2 separate regions of the Homo sapiens genome follow, and region 2 is linked to region 1. Evidence: fine-mapped expression QTL. A gene starts in region 1. The other region holds a variant in brackets. All regions are shown on one strand. Distances are between the middles of the regions.

Region 1 (8,756 bases):
CATACTCAGCCTCTTGCCAAATTCCTGCTTAGGTGTTCCTGCCAGTTTGTGGTTCCACTGGCATCAGCTGCAGGTGATCTGGTGTCTGCTGTGATGCTCTGTAATCTCCTCTCTCTCCCGGTTTCAGGCTGGTAGTTTCCTTGAGACCTCAGTTCTCTGATGGGTCCAAGACGTCATTGATTTTTAGTTTCTCCAGCTTTTTTCGTGGTGTCGAGATATGAGTGATGACTTCCAAGCTCTTTAGATGTTGAAGCTGCAACTAGAAGTCTTCCATGAACTTTCTTTTAAAAATAGACAGTATGGCATAGTGCAGTGTTTCTCAAAAGAAAATAAATATATTGATCTCTATACCTTATTAAGTGTTGATATATTATTTTATTATAATTTTATGTTAAAATAGAGAAACACGAATTTAGACCTAAACACTGTAAGCCTACAGTTCTTAACCAAGTTTTTGAAATATAATGCATATGTTAATTAAATTTTAAAATCTCGCAAAAAAATTAAAATTTTAACTAACACCACCAATTTAAGATTGTGTGGGCAAGCCAAAATATTATTATAGGTTTAATAGAAGGAAGATACTATTCAATTCTGATACTGTCCTTGGTCTGTTTCTGTATTTGACTTCAATAATTCTCATATAGGAAAGTTCTGTTTAATAAGGCTATATAAAATGTTACTGGTACCTTCACAGTTTTCTGCTTATGATTATCAAAGAAAAAGCTCTGCCAATATGCAATTTTTCAATGTCAATTTTATTAAAGAATGTTTTGATAATTCTGTAAATGCTTTATAATCCCACAGCAATATGTGTCCGTTGCAGCATTATTAAAATCTGTATTTATATCACTATTTACTTATTGCTTTGAATTAAGAACATGAAAAATTTTATCTCGAAACTTTATCATATATATATCATACAATAAATAAGTCATAATGTATTAACTATATATTATGACTAACAACCTGCTGTAACTTTAGACATACAAAAATACCTCTTAATGAGTGTAAAATGTTAACTCTTCTTTTGAGTTCAGTATACCTGTACCACAGTGAGTCCTAGGACATTTGAATCAATTCTCTCAAGCCATTTGCCTATTTGATTATGAATCTCTGTTTGGTCACTGGGCATAATCTTACATGGACCTCATTCTAGACACATATATCCATAAGCAACAAAAATAAAGTAATTGGGATCCATCACAATAACTATGAACAAAGTAACTATCCACATGATCTGGAATTTGCCCATATTTGTGGCTTGTTTTCTGTATACTGTTTTTGATGGAGATATTATAGTCCCCTAATAATACATATACCTACTTCAGCTTAAGAAAAAACTATATTTTGCCAAATTTTGTAATCAGACTGGGTTTAAATACCAGCTCTGATGACTCATAACTCTGATCTCGAGAAATTTACTTACCATCTCTAAACATTAATTTCTCAATTAGGGAAGTGATATGACAAAGTTGCTGTGAAGTCAAATGAAGGAATGAATGCAAAATCCCAACCCTTTACATATTACCTCTGTTCTCAATTAATCATTGGCTTGAACTGAACATTTTTAACATGGTTCCCTGCTAAAGGTGTTTTTACATATAGTAAGACCTAATAGATAATATTATGTTACATAATCTATAATTATTATATATAAAACTATATAAAATTATATAGTACCTATTTAGACATATAAAAAGGGAAGTTTTTTAATGAAAAATTAGATTGGCTGAAGAGTGTGGAAATCATCACATAGGGAAGTGGTCAGCACTGTGGATATACACCAAACAGTATTACAGAGACATACTGAAAATAAAGCACACTGACAGAAAGAAACCTCATTAGGATAGAATTTTGGGAGATTGGTGTCTTGTTATTCCCAGAGTCTGACTTTTCTAATCACGTAGCATTGTCAGGGATATCTAAATTTTAAACTTCAGATTTTGTACAAAAAAACCTAAAAGGACTATATTTTAAAATAAGAAGCATGTACAAATAATTGTAAAGGAAAGAGTGTGAGTTTTGTAGTCTCCAGTTCTGTGTCAGTAAGAATTTGATGAGGAATAGCCAATAGCATTTATGCTGGTCCAGGCTGGATCAAATTGTGATCGTACTTCTAGTCTTCAAGCTGCCTGGTTAGAAATTATGCAGCTTACTTTGATGCCTGTCCTACTACTACTATTAGCCTTTTAGTGGTTACCTTAAGAATAACTGAATAATACTGTTACTTTGCATCTCTCAAAGACCGTGCGCTGTTCCCGCATACTTTCTTGCAGACGTATTGTCTTCTGAAGGATGGTGCCCATGGGCACAGCAATTTGGGGCATCTTTTGGTAGGAAGCATGATTTCTCCTGTTTGGGCACAAAAGAGTGACTACGGAATATAAGCTAAACACCTTCTCCCAGAAATATCAGTTGTAAAACTTAGCTCATTAATGTAATGTTGAACGTTTTCATGTGAGTCATACTTGAACTTCTTGAATGTGAGTAAATAACGGAGTTGAATTGTATAAAACCCTGATGGATGGCAGAAGGGAAAGAACATCCCTTTCATCTGATCCATGCCTGAGATTCCTTCCCTCTACTATACTACTGGAAATAAACAACTTGTCTGGTGCTCTAAAAATTAATGCTATTATCATTATAGAGAGAACAGGAGTGAGTGCTTTTAGGTTATTACTTGTTCTTACTAAGGCATCATATTCTTTCTTCACGTGTTTTGTGTTTGAGGCTAGGGATAAAGGTACAGGAAAAAGGATCTAAGAAAAAAACTCGAATCTCTAAACATGGAGTCTTTTTTTTTTTTTTTTTTTTTGAGGTGGAGTCTCACTCTGTTGCCCAGGCTGGAGTGCAGTGGTGCGATCTCTGCTCACTGCAACCTCCGCCTCCTGGGTTCAAGCAATTCTTCAGCCTCAGCCTCCCGAGTAGCTGGGATTACAGGCGCATGCCTGGCCAATTTTTGTATTTTTAGTAGAGACTAGTTTCACCATGTTGGCCAGGCTGTTCTAGAGCTCCTGACCTCAAGTGATCCAGCCACCTCGGCCACCCAAAGTGCTGGGATTACAGGCATGAGCCACCACACCTAGCCAAACATGGAGTCTTTACTCAACATTATAGTAACGTGAAAGAGGAGATCATGAGAATTAATGTATGTTTTAGAAGGCATAGATTACTTATAAAAAAGGAAAGATCAGGCTGGGCACGGTGGCTCGCGCCTGTAATCCCAGCACTTTGGGAGGCCAAGGCGAGCGGACCATGAGGTCAGGGGATCAAGACCATCCTGACCAACATGGCGAAACCCTGTCTCTACTAAAATACAAAAAATTAGCCGGGTGTGATGGCACACGCCTGTAGAACCTGGGAGGCAGAGGTTGCAGTGAGCGGAGATCACACCACTGCACTCCACCCTGGTGAGACAGCGAGACTCCATCTCCAAAAAAAAAGGAAAGCTCAATCTGCTGTAAATTATGTGCTTGTTTCAACAACCCTTGTTTCTTTTCCTTTTCACTTCTCTTTTTTTTTTAAAGCGGCCTAAATGGGGTGAAGAGTGAGTTATCTGACAAATTTAGATTTTGCAAACCTGTGCATTGATGAGAGTGCTATTGAAACACATTAAGAAAGATTTTCAACGCAGGAATGTGTCATTTCCTTTCTTCATGTACCAGATGCTGAAATACTATGAGATAAAGATTTTAGGTTTCAATTGTAAAGAGAGAGAAGTGGATAAATCAGTGCTGCTTTCTTTAGGACGAAAGGTAAAGAAAAAAAAAGGCTTATTTTAATGTTTTTTCCAGAATTGTTTCTATTGATTGTTATGTGTGTACTCTGTGTGTGTGTGTGCATGCATGTGTGTGATATATATTTGTGTGTCTGTGTGTGTATGATGAGATGAATGCTTTATTGTATCAGCAATAATTTGGTTTGGTTTTTTTCGATAATCAAAAAATAGGGATTTCTGCTAAATTTTCCATGAGTGAAAAACATATATGTTCACAAGTACATATGAAATACACTAAATGCTTTGTAGTTTGAACCAGCAATGGGGTTTTTTCATATAATTAAGCATATTTTGTTTAAAATACTGGTTTTATTCAAAGTATAATTTGACATATTTCACCTATTCTCCTTTCATAACTTTTCATGGAACATTTTTGGCTTTAATCTAATGCCTTTTATTATCTTCCCTTGATTATATAGCAAATATTGGCTGGGTATCTACTATATGCACTTCATTGAACTAGATGTGGGGAAAGGATACAAAAAATAAGATATAGTTCTTTTTGTGCTCCGGAATCTTATGATTTAAAACATATCCCCAAATAGGCATAATGTAATTTGAGCACCTTAAGTAGTATGAAAGTACTATAGATAATTACTAGCACCTTAAGTAGTATGAAAATGCTATAGATAATTACTATGAAAATATAGGCGAGGCCAAAATTACTTCTATGTGAAAAAAGTCTATCAAAAATAAATCTTCATGGAGATGCTAGAAATCTGATTAATCTTGAAGACTAAGTAAGATTCACACAGCATATAATGGGAGGTTGGCATTTGCACTGACCAGGTAAAAATACTTATAGAAAAACCATAGAACTGAGATTACAGATGTTTTATGCAGTGATTAGCCGTTTTATGCAGTGGGTAAGAGCTAATCTTCTGGGAGTAGACTGCCTGTGTTCAAATTCCAGCTCCCCTGCTCCCTAGTTGAGTAACTTGACTAGTTACTTACACATTTCAGTTCCCTAACCTGTAAAATGGAGAAAATACTACTTGTACCTCATGAAGATTCCGTGAGAACAAAATAAGAAAAGCTCATATTTAAAAAAAAAGTGATATTTTAAAATAACAGGGATTCATATATTGATGGTTTTCTGTGTACCAGGCAATTTACAAAAATTATTTTTAATTCTCGCAATAATTCTTTAAATTTATATTGTGATCATATTTTACATATCTAAAGAAAGTTCAATTCAAATAAGTTAAAATATTTGCCTAAGATCACACAGCTAAATGATGTCACAGTCAATACTCAAATCTAGATTTCAGATTCAAAAGTTGATGCTCTTTCTTCTTTGCTACCAAGGATGAATATCAGTGACATCAGGCACAATATAAATATTTCCATTTCTTACTAAAATCTGTCTTACAGACGGGTTCCTTAAGCATAAAGCTGTTAGTTTCACAAATAATCTTAATTTAATTTTCATTTTATATACACATTCAACTGCTGTTACAAAAATCAAAGTTATTATTTTATATAATAAGGAGGATCACAAGCTTATTATTTATTCCAAATGTTGAAGATAAAGTTGGCCTTAAGAATATGATGGGCCGGGCACGGTGGCTCACGCCTGTAATCCCAGCACTTTGGGAGGCCAAGGCAGGTGGATTACCTGAGGTCGGGAGTTCAAGACCAGCCTGACCAACATGGAGAAACCCTGTCTCTACTGAAAATACAAAATTAGCCGGGCGTGGTGGTGCATGCTTGTAATCCCAGTTACTCCGGAGTCTGAGGCAGGAGAATCACATGAACCCAGGAGGCGGAGGTTGTGGTGAGCCAAGATCACGCCATTGCACTCCAGCCTGGGCAACAAGAGCGAAACTCCATCTCAAAAACAAAAAGAAAGAAAGAAAAAAGAAAGAATATGATAAAAAAACTAAATAGGGAAAAATCTTAGGAAAACGAATGCATGTCAAGTATGAAAAGACAGATGGTAAATATGTATTAAACATAAAGAGCTGATTCACATGCTTAGGTAAAAGAAACCTGTGGGGATGTATAAGCAGTGAATATGAATAGATAATAACCCAAGAAGAACAATGTATGACAGACAATTACAGTGAAATCTCTCTCTTACATTAATAATAAAAAATAAAAATGAAAACCACTTTTAGGTATTATTTAACTCTTATCAAAATCTAAATGATTCTAAAATAAGCTTTATTATTCAATGGTAGTGAATTTTGCTTGAAACTGCCATATTCACATATAAGTCTGGAATATTTATAAATTTATGTTATCTTTTTAAAGATCACTAAGACAGTAGAGCCCAAGAAGTTCAAAATAGTTTTCCTTTCACTTTTTAGTTTCACATATGATGAATTATCCTAAAGAAACATTTTAAAAGAAGAAAGCTAAATTATGAAAATAATGGCCGGGGCAGTGGCTCACATCTGTAATCCCAGCACTTTGGGAGGCCAAGGAGGGTGGATCACCTGAGGTCAGGAGTTTGAGACCAGCTGGATGAACGCGGTGAAAAATACAAAAATGAGCTGGGCATGGTGGCAAACGCCTATAATCCCGCTACTCGGGAAGCTGAGGCAGGAGAATCACGTGAACCCAGGAGGCAGAGGTTTCAGTCAGCTGAGATCACACCATTACACTCCAGCCTGGGTGACAAAGCAAGACTCAATCTCAAAAAAAAAAAAAAAAAGGAAATATTTATAACATCATTATTTATATCAGTGAAGCATTGCCCCCTGGGAAAAGGAAAAAAAGTTTAAAAGAAAAAATTATATTTTAGAAAAATGGCTGTATTTTTTATTTAGAAAAATGGCTGTATAAATAAGATTTTATATATATATAAAATATATATAAAATAAGATTTTATATATATATAAAATATATATAAAATAAGATTTTATATATATATAAAATATATATAAAATAAGATTTTATATATATATAAAATATATATAAAATAAGATTTTATATATATATAAAATATATATAAAATAAGATTTTATATATATATAAAATATATATAAAATATATATAAAATAAGATTTCATATATATAAAATATATAAAATATATATAAAATATGATTTTTTATATATAAAAATATATATAAAATAAGATTTTATATATAAAATATATAAAATATATATAAAATAAGATTTTATATATATAAAATATGATTTTATATATATAAAATATATATAAAATATATATAAAATAAGATTTTATATATATAAAATATATATAAAAATATATAAAATAAGATTTTATATATATATGAAATGTAAATAAGATTTTATATATATATGAAATGTAAATAAGATTTTATATATTTGAAATATAAATAAAATAAGATTATATCTAAATATATATAAAATAAGATTTTACATATATGAAATATATATAAAATAAGGTTTTACGTATATATGAAATATATGTAAAATAAGGTTTTACGTATATATGAAATATATGTAAAATAAGGTTTTGCGTATATATGAAATATATGTAAAATAAGGTTTTGCGTATATATGAAATATATGTAAAATAAGGTTTTATATATATAAGCAAGTCTTTGCTACATAATAATTCAACACATATATATATGTTGTTTTATATATATATATATATATATATATATATATGTATGTGTGTTGAATTATTAGGTAGCAAACACTTGGAACCAACCCAAATGTCCCTCAGTGATAGACTGGGTAAAGAAAATGTGGCATATATACACCATGGACTACTATGCAGCCATAAAAAAGATGAGTTGATGTCCTTTGCAGGGACATGGATGAAGCTGGAAACCATCATTCTCAGCAAACTAACAGAGGAACAGAAAAAGAAACACTGCATGTTCTCACTCATAAGTGACAGTTGAACAGTGAGAGCACGTGGACACAGGGAGGGGAGCATCACACACCGGGGCCTGTCAGTAGGTGGGAGGCAAGGGGAGGCATAGCATTAGGACAAACTCCTAATGCATGTGGGACTTAAAACCTAGATGATGGGCTGATGGGTGCAGCAAACCACCATGGCATATGTATACCAATGTAGCAAACCTGCACGTTCTGCACGTGTATCCCAGAACCTAAAGAATAATAAAAAAAATTTCAAGTTTGAAAAATTCGTTTGAAATATTAAAATAATGAGGTGATTTTAAGGAAAACGCGTAATACCAAATGATACGTGCATGATGATATGAACTATGTTACAGGTATACATACATCCAAAGACTCGAGTTTCATTTAAAAAATTAAGGGTTTTTTTCCTTTATTAGGGTGATGAGATGACAGAAATTTCATCCTAACATATCTATAATATTATTAAAATGTTTTATAATAAAAACAAAAAAGTAAGGTATATGGTTCCCAACAAATTAACCTTGAAATTCTTTCATTATGAATTTCCTGTAAACTTTTCATCCACTTGATAAAATGCTGATATTACAGAAACGTGTTTCACTTCTCATGAGCACGTGCTTTTAATAGATTACACAAACTCCAAGGATTTTACAATCGTTTATCAGCACACTGACATTTAATAGGAAGAGTAACTTTATGTGAAGCTACTTTTTGTCCTAACTGTGGAACTGATATTAAAAGGCACACTTGAACAGTGTGAGTTGTTCACTGCCTGCTAATGAAGGCTCATGCAAGTATGTATGTTCACGTTACTAAAAAATTACAATGATTATAACCAGAGTAAGCAGCTGAAATAATCTGGTAATTTTAATAATAAATGCTTTTGAAGCAAAGTGGGTTCACTGAGGGTAATATTTTTTGTTTCAGTTTGCTAGTTACGTGCAGTGCAGAGAGAAATATTTTATTTTCCAATATGTAACAGAAGAATTTTTAAAATCCCTACTTTAGTGAACCACAAAGTTTTCTTGAGGCATAACCTAAGATATAAAATCCAGTCATCTTGAAAAATATCTTGCCTTTCATTTATTTATGTAATTTTAAATACGGCATTATGTATGTAATGAGCACCTTCAGGAACTCTCTGAT
Region 2 (8,756 bases), 360 kb before region 1:
GGATTGCTGGATCAAACGGTATTTCTACTTTTAGTTCTTTAAGGAATTTCTGCCCTGTTTTCCATAGTAACTGTCCTAGTTTACATTCCCACCAGCAGTGTGGAAGTGTTCCCTTTTAAACACATCCGTGTCAACACCTTTTTAGTCTTAATGACTGTTTTTTCCTTTTTTCTTTCTCTCAGAGCCCATTCCAATTTTAGCCTTCTGTATCTCAGTTCATAGCAAGTCTAATGTTCCCAAAACATTGGAATTATCCTTGATTGCTATCTTTTTCTCACACCCATTACAATATGCTGGGAAATCTGGTGACCTTCCAGAATGTGACCACTTCTCATCACTTCCACTTCTGTCGTACAGATCTGAACAACTTTTATCTCCTGCTTGGATTACTGTGCTATTTCTGTCTTGTTATCCTGTAGCCTATTCTCAACACAAAAGCAGGAATGATTTTCATAACTGAAGTTCATGTTAATTCTGTGCTGAGTGTCTTACATTGGCATACGTTTTACTCAAGGTAAAGGCAAATATTTGAATATGGCGCATAACACTTCGCACAATCTTGTTTTTGCTACCTCTAGAACAGCAGTTTTCAATTGCTGGCTGATTTTGCTCCCCCAGGGAAAATGTGATAATTTTTGATGATCATTACTGGGTGGCAATGGGGGTAGGGAGTTGGGGGGCTGTGGATGTTGCTACCATCCAGTGAATGGAGTCCACGGATGTTGCTAAATATCCTAGAATGTCCAGGTTACCCCGTTACATCAAAGAAATATTGGATTTAAAATAGCATTTGAGAATCCCAGATGGAAAGCCTCATTTTCAAATGTTCTCCTTTTTCTCTCAACTCCAACACTGGCATTCTTGTTGACCTTTGAAAACACAGGGATTGTGGAAACCTCTCAGTCTTTTCACTTTGTTTTCCCTCAGCGTGGAAAATATTCCTTCTAGAAATTCACATGGTTTGCTCCTTTACTTTTTCCAATCTCTGTTCTGATGTCCTATCTCATTGGGTTTCTCTTTGATCACTTGATATAAACGAGAATTCCCTAGAAATCTTTTTCCCCTAACCAGTCTTTATTGGACTTTTTAACATCTGTTCGTGTGATATCTATAAATTGTATTATTTATTGTCTGCTTCTCCTTATTAGAATGTAGAATGCTGCTGAGTGGCTGTTTTGTGTGTTTTGCTTCCTTCTTTTCCCTCTAGAGCAATGACTGGCATGTAGAAGGTACTTACAAATAATCATAATATAAAGCAATGAAGTGGAGAAAACCAACAGAGTCTTTCAAAGGAATATAAGAGAAACATCAAACTCATATTGGCTGAAGCTATGTCTCATTTGGTCATGTAAGGGTGTCTGATTTGTTTGGTGAAAAGGGTGGTGCCTGCCTCTATGTACTTTAGGTATAGGACACAGAATGCTCATGAGTCTTGCAATTAAAGAAAATGTTTCCTTGGAGAAATGGGTGGCATAAAGCCTCAGAGGGCCCAGAATGAGTCAAAACAAATCAAGTGGGAGAGTTGAGCAGGGGTAGGAACATGCACGGCCTTCTAAACTACTGCAAATCTGGATTCCTTGAACACAGTGAGAATAAGGAGTTGGGTCATGTCAATATTTTAAGTCAAGGAGTACCGTCATCATATCTGCATTTTAGAGTGGTCAGCATCACTGTGCAGTGGATCCTAAGCTGGAGGAGAAGGCCACAGTGAAAAGTAAGAAAATCAATTAGGAGACAGCTCTAGTAATGAGACGAGATAGTCATGCTTTTTAAATATTTCATTTCCTATACATCTTCGTATTTTTTAAAAATTTCTAAAGTAGACCTATGTTACTTTTAATAAAAATGTTTAGATTTGAATAATTTGTAGATTTAAGTAAAAAAAAATGAAAATATGCCTTAGAAATTAGGAAACAGGAAAATTGTGCGATATCCTAGATGTCTTCCCTAGAATCTGGTGAAGGAATAAGACCAATTATTAGATCGTTAGATATTCTTATTAGTCACTGATTTAATGAAACTCAGAGTTTCTTGTAGCATGTCTTGTGGGATGAGGTTCCTCACCCTCCTCACTTTCTTCACATTTGCTACTATGATCCATTTGTGCTTGTGCCACCCTCCAAATTTATGTGTCAAAATCCTAACGCTCAAGGTGATGGTATTATGAGGTGGATCTTTGGGAGGGGATTACGAATTGAGCCTTTCTAAGAAAGACCCCAGAGTGCTAACTCCACCCCCCAAACCTTAGCCATGTGAGGACACAGAAAGAAGGAGCCCTCACTGAATCAGAAAGTGAATCTCGCCAGAAACTGAATTTGTGGCTCTTTGATCTTGGACTTCCCAGCCTCAGAGCACTATGAAATAATTTTCTGTGGTTTACAAGCCACCCAGTTTATGGTATTTTATTATAGCAGCCACAGTGATCTAAAATATTTGGTTTTCTGTGCTTGTTTGTGAGTTGTGTGTGTATGTGTGTGTGTGTGTGTGTGTGTGTGAGAGAGAGAGAGAGAGGGAGAGGGAGAGAGAGAGAGAGAGAGAGAAAGAGAATGTTTTGCTTCAAATTAAAGTGTTTTATTCACTCTTACTTCATTGGTTCCCACGCTGTTGAAAACACTTTGGTACTTTAACAAATAAACCAAAGCAATATAGCTCCTCTAGCGATTTTTAGTAGTCTGTATGAATTGGCACAGAAATTTCTCTTCCTGGAACTCCCTCTTTACAAGACACTTGCTAGGAATAAACTATTTTTTTTAGTTATTGAATCATTCTGATTAGGACATAGTCTCACTCAATGTTGAGTTTTGAATTTTGGCCATCACATTTATTAATACTTAAAATAATCTTATATTTATTTATCTGCTTGCCTGCTTGGTAGCTAGGTCTCAGCTTGTCTGTCTGTCTTTCTAGAATGAAACTGCTTTAGTTGTTTGTCTTGTCCTATACCTAGAAGAGAACCTGGTAGAGTGCCTGATTTAGTGAGTGTTTTGGCTGATTGTATTATTATTTTGATATTAGAAAATTGCTTTTGAAAATGCACTTTGTTTTGAAACAAAGCTATTTGGGCCTCAAAGTACAGAAAAGTCATAACTACTGCCAGAAAAAAAGATTCTGAAAGAATATAGATTAAGGCAGTGCTTTCTGCTTATATATCAAAACAGAAGGAAGCATTTTTTGGGCTTTCAGCATTTGATTTCACAAACCCTATGGATAATTTCACTCCGTTAAGCAAATTTGAAATCATTATAGCCCAGTTTGCTTGTCTATAAAATAAAGGGATAGAATTAGACTGTCTTTCTGCTCTAAATTCCTATGCTCATACGTCCAACTGGATGATAATATTAGCTACAAATCACGTGTCTATGTTCTAGTTTAAATTTTCTCTTTAGGCCTATGACTTTGGGCTCAGTGTTTATGTTTTGAAGATCTTTA[A/C]TTTCCTCAAATAAAAAGTGATAGGGTTTAAACAGATGATTCATTTCCAATATCTATGAAATTCCCTAACATTTGTACTTCTTAGATTATAGTAATATTTAAAGCTATGAAGATGGGTTTATTGCACTGTCTCGTAGTGTTTCAGTGTGATAAAGTTAGGATTGTTAAAGAAACACTTCTGCCATGCACAGTTAGGCTCATAATTCAAGAAAGATTGCAGTTCAGAAGGTAAGAGGGTAATATGAGAGCCATTATTCTTGGGAAGTCTAAGATGCTGGAATCCAAAGATGAGTAGACTTGACCCTGGAGTTCTTTTGTCTCCTGTTCCAGATATTCTGGCTTTTTCTTATAAGACCATTAACAAGAACACTTGTATTGATTTTTATTTGTCATATAAATTGTAGGAGTTAAGACTTGAGCTGTTTTCTTCTACAGGGAAGGAATTTAATCTAGTGTAAAAGCCAGTTGATGAACTATTTAGAAAAATAGGTGATAGACACTGGAACTACTTTATTATAAGCCATAAATCCTTAATTTGATCTTGATTAATGTTATAGTAGAGCCAGAACCCACAAATTTTTATTTAGAGAACCTTTGGGATTATGTAAATCTATTGGACATAAATGCCTTTGAGAATGCAAACCTCTAGGTTACCATTGTTTAGACCCAAAAATAAGATTAGTAGACATTTACTTCCCAGTTACCTCAAATTCTTTCCCCATGATATTTAATAAAATTTACACTTATTTTAGATTTCATTATTTGCAAATTGAGTTTCTGGCTAAGTTCATTCACCAAAATGAGCAATGTAGTTTTTTCTAATATTCAAAAGTTTTTTTAGTAGTGACTGTGAAATTATAAATCGGAGAATATAAAATTTTATCATTAGAAATGATATGTTTTAGAATGCATATTATTGAAACTGTTTACATACTTTTGTATATAATACTTACTGAGGTTGCTTGTAATGACAAAACTTTGCTAAAATTAGGAACATAAATAAAGATACCCCACTTCACAAAAAGTTGCCACAGAATTAAGTCAAGTAACTCTACATTAAATTTAAAATACAATGCAAAATGTTGATCATTATTACATCCAATTTTAAGAAAATATTTTTGTACCAAAACAGAAAGCACAGTGAATATGGAGACACAAATTTGAACGAAATAGCTGAAAACTGAAAAAAAAATTTTTATTCAGAGTCAAGACATTTTTGTTTTGGTTATATGTCTCATGATATTTTTGCTAAAGAGTTGGAGTCATTATTTTTCTTTCTTTAGAAATATTTTAAAATCCATTGAAATCATACATTCAAATTACTACTACTCATTTTATGAAAGCTAAACAGTATTTTCATACATTACAAGTTAATCATTTATTGCCAGATATCAATCTATAGCCAGACTATTAGGGCATTCAAGATATTGATCAAAATACTGAAGTCCAGATATATGAGGTTTACATGTCATTATGACTAGTTTAACTGATCTATATTTTAGTGTTGCAGTTGACAGGTAATATGTTTATAGTTCGTTCTTTGGATCAACATGTTGTTGAAGTTTCCCCCCAGATTTCTGCAGTGTCTTTAAAGATGCTTTATGAAAAAAATGTAATGGTAATAGTAAAATCATGGCTGTGACTTGCCTTTTAGTCACCAGGGACCATTAGAAAAACAACTAGCTAGAGCTGGCTTCCTTTGCCTCAATGGATTCCTCTAGGCTCTACCTCTCACCTTCAAATATATACTCACTTTTTCTTTCCTTGTTCCTCCAGTTTAAATCCCTTTGTCTCACCGGTGTTCTTTTTCTCAGTTTAACCCCTTTAGATTATATTTGGGTATGGGATTCTCTGCCTGGCTTTCATTTCATCCCAGGAAGTGGTTTCTCAGATCAATCTTTTAGTCTCTGCACAAATGCTCTATGTGTGTCAGGTGACACCTAAATCTGCCCCAGGGATATTTCAGCATTTTTGGTGGCCTCTACTTTTTTCTGGGAGGAAGCACCTGGTATTACTAAGAGTTATACTTCCTGTCAGTGATACTGACCTGAGTTCAGGAGAAAGAAAGCACACAGACCATAAGTTTTAAGAGAGGTGAATTTTATGTGTTGTTTTTGTCTTTAAATAAATGAAAAGTTGGTATTTTTTCATGGTTAATAAAATGTCAAGCCATTACTTGCTGCAATTTGTCTTATTATGTCTATGTCATAATCAGTTGAAACAGTTGAGATTAAATCGAAGAAACAGAATCCTACTTATATATGTGATAAGAAACTTATGATAAGAATTTGACCTTATATATTTGTAGCAGCTGGTTAAAGTCTGTATAAAGCTGTTTTGTGCTTGGGGTTGGAGCCTAACATCAGTAGAGCGGGTAGTCAGGAAGGCAAGATGATACTAAGTAGAACAGAGGATGGATAAGCTGGAATCCATGATGGCAAATTGAAACCTTCATATTTCTCCCTCTGCCTCTGAGACTTCAACTTTGACCATAAGAATACCTTCTAGGAGAGCATGATGTCCTTCATCACAGAATTAAATTCCCCTCTCTTTTACAACTTATGGTTATATAATGTCAGTGCGCTTTCTTTCTGCTGAAGTCAGGTCGGTATCATTGACAGGAAGCATAATTCTTAGTAATACCAGGTGCTTCCTCCTAGAAAAAAAAAAGATGCCACCAGAAAGAATGAAATATCCCTGGGGCAGATATGCTGTCCCAACTAGGATCCTGCAGAAGCCACAGGATGTTTAAGTGCTGTGGGCCAAATGGTGCCCCATACAGCCCCAGTGAGCCAGCAGCAACTGACAATACGTGTAAGCTGAATTCGTACGTGGTGTTCTCAATTCTTGTTTCAAGCATAGGTACATAGCTGCTGTTTCACTTTTACCTGCCAGCTCTTGCACAGAATATCTCTTGTGGCTTGCATTAACTTAGAACTAAGCAAGACAGCAGTGCTGGGAAACATAACTTGGTCTAGCTAAACTGACAAATACAAATTCACCCAACTGCATACAGCAATTGCCATATAAATTTACATGACCACAAACTGTATATAAGAATTCCTATTGGGCTTCCCATTCTCACCAATATTTGTTTTTGTCCAACTTTGTTTTTACATTTTTGCTATGATGGTCACTGTAAAATTATATCTCATTTTGATTGGTTTTAACTTGTACTTTTCTAATTCGTGATGGATTGAATATATTACCATGTGCTTACTGACCACTTGGGTTTCTTCTTTGGAACTGCCTATTCATATCTCTTGCCCTATCTTTCTATTGGGTGGTCTTCTGTTTGTCAACTTGAAGGAGAACTTTATAAATTCATGTTATTAATTTTCTGTTGATTTATCATTTTCAAGTATCTTTTCCCAATTTGTGGTTTGTTTTCTATGTTTTTAAAAGGTTCCCCTTAATGAACAAATTTCTTATTAAATTTAGTGATAATGAAATTTTAAGAGATTTTAAGAAATATTTTATAGTTTATATTTAAGTATACAAGATAATTTTTTAATATACATAATGAAATAGTTCCTATATTCAGGCAAATTAACATATCTGTCATCTTACAGTTATCCCTTGGAGTGCATGTGTGTGTGTGTGTGTGTGTGTTTGTGTGTGTGTGTGAGGTCACCTAAAATCTACTCTCTCAGCACACTTCCAGTATACAAAACAATATTATTAGCTATTATCCTCGTGCTGTACATTAAATTTCTAAACTTATTCATTCTACTAATTGCAACTTAGCAGCCTTGGAACTACATATCCCCATTTCCTCCCTACCCCCAAGAGTTCTTAATATAATTACTTTTTGGTATTTTGTTTAGGACATCATTCTGTATATTAGGCCATAAACAATTGTTAAGTTTTACACATTTCTTTCTTTCTCTCCTGTTCTAAAGCATGCTGTGAGATAAGTGTTCTATCACTATTGTTTGCCCCTTATGGATAACACATTGTCTCAGCACTAATTACTAAGTCCTGTCTTTCTCTCTAATACACAGTATTTATATGTAACAAGTTTCTGTATAGGTTGGTTCGGTTTTGGGGTTCTATACAAATTACTCTAGCTTTGTAATAAAACTTGATAATATTTCTTGGTGAGTGCTTTAGCTGTCACTGCCCACGAGATTTTCAAATAAAATTTCAAATCATAATATCAGTTAACTAAAGAAATGTAGTTTCCATTGGAATTGTATTAAATTCATAAGCCAGTTTGGGTTGAACTAATTGTCCTGTCTTTACACATAGAGTATCTCTCCATTTATTATAGTCTGCTTTAATATACAAAATTTTATCATTTGTTGGTATAAAGTTCTTGTCTAACTTTATGTGGGATTATTTCTAGGTGGCAAATAGATGCTTTTTGCTAAAAATTACTATATCTAATAATAAAAGTATGAATTGATTAAATATTCTTACCATAGTTTCTCGACCTTTGGTATATTTATATTATACAATCATGCATCTGCAAATAATGATAGTCTTTTTTTCTTTCCAATTATTAAATCTTTTATTTTTCTGGCCTTATTACACTGTCTAGAGCCTTTAGTACAATCTTTTTTCTTAATTTTTTTATTGTGATAAAAAACAGGATTTACCATCTTTACCATTTTTAAGAGTACAGCAGTGTTGATAAGGAGCTTAAAAAGAAATTATTTAGGCAGTTAGTGAGGGTAAGAGAGTCCTCAGTAAGGCTTCCCTTTTTACAAAAACGCAGCCCCCATATCATTCCTTCTCTAACAAAGAGCAGCCTGTAAAATCGAACTGCAGACGTAGATAAGGCAAGCTGGATGCTTGCACGGGTGAATGCTGGCAGCTGTGCCAATAGGATAAGGCTACCTGGGGGCCAGGCATGTTCAACATTGAGGCTCCCTTTTCCCTTTTCTTTGTCAACCACGTGTACGGTAAAGGAACCGGCAACATGGAGGTGGCCAGACAGAGAACCCATCTTCACAATAAAAGATTAGGGTGGGGCCACCAGTTCCTTCTCATCTATAAAACCCCATGCGTTTCACCAAGAAACCGGAAGACCCACTTGGGAGCCCCTCTCTCTCCACAGGAGAGAGACCTTTTCTGCTTCTTTCACCTATTAAACCTTGGCTCTTGAACTCACTCCTTGTGTGTCCACGTTCTTGATTTCCTTGGCATGAGGCAACAAACCTCAGGTATTACCCCAGATGAAAAATGCTGTTTCAGTGTTAACCATATGCACATTGTTATGCAACAGATCTTTAGAAATCGTTCATTTTTTACAGCTGAAGTTTTATACTCATTGAACAATTTCTCTTTTGCCCTCTCCTAGTCACTGGCAGTCACTATTCTGT

Which allele goes with the higher level. Alleles are on the strand shown, and positions count from the first base shown. SD is a standard deviation of normalised expression in the study named.
In carriers of allele C in region 2, the expression in monocytes of the gene that starts at base 3,705 in region 1 tends to be lower than with A alone (moderate effect, 0.59 SD a copy in Quach 2016).

What was found.
Region 2: its variant is fine-mapped to the expression of MSR1 in monocytes (Quach 2016, PIP 0.95).

The regions. Positions count from the first base shown.
Region 1 is chr8:16,187,600-16,196,355 of GRCh38, reverse strand. MSR1 (macrophage scavenger receptor 1) reads left to right here and starts at 3,705. Exons shown (of 10, transcript NM_138715.3): 1 at 3,705-3,758.
Region 2 is chr8:16,544,943-16,553,698 of GRCh38, reverse strand. All of the region lies in intron 6 of LOC101929028 (a long non-coding RNA gene), which reads left to right. Among named protein-coding and RNA genes, the nearest start is that of MSR1, 360 kb to the right of the region's middle. The variant A/C (reference allele first, on the strand shown) is at 3,430.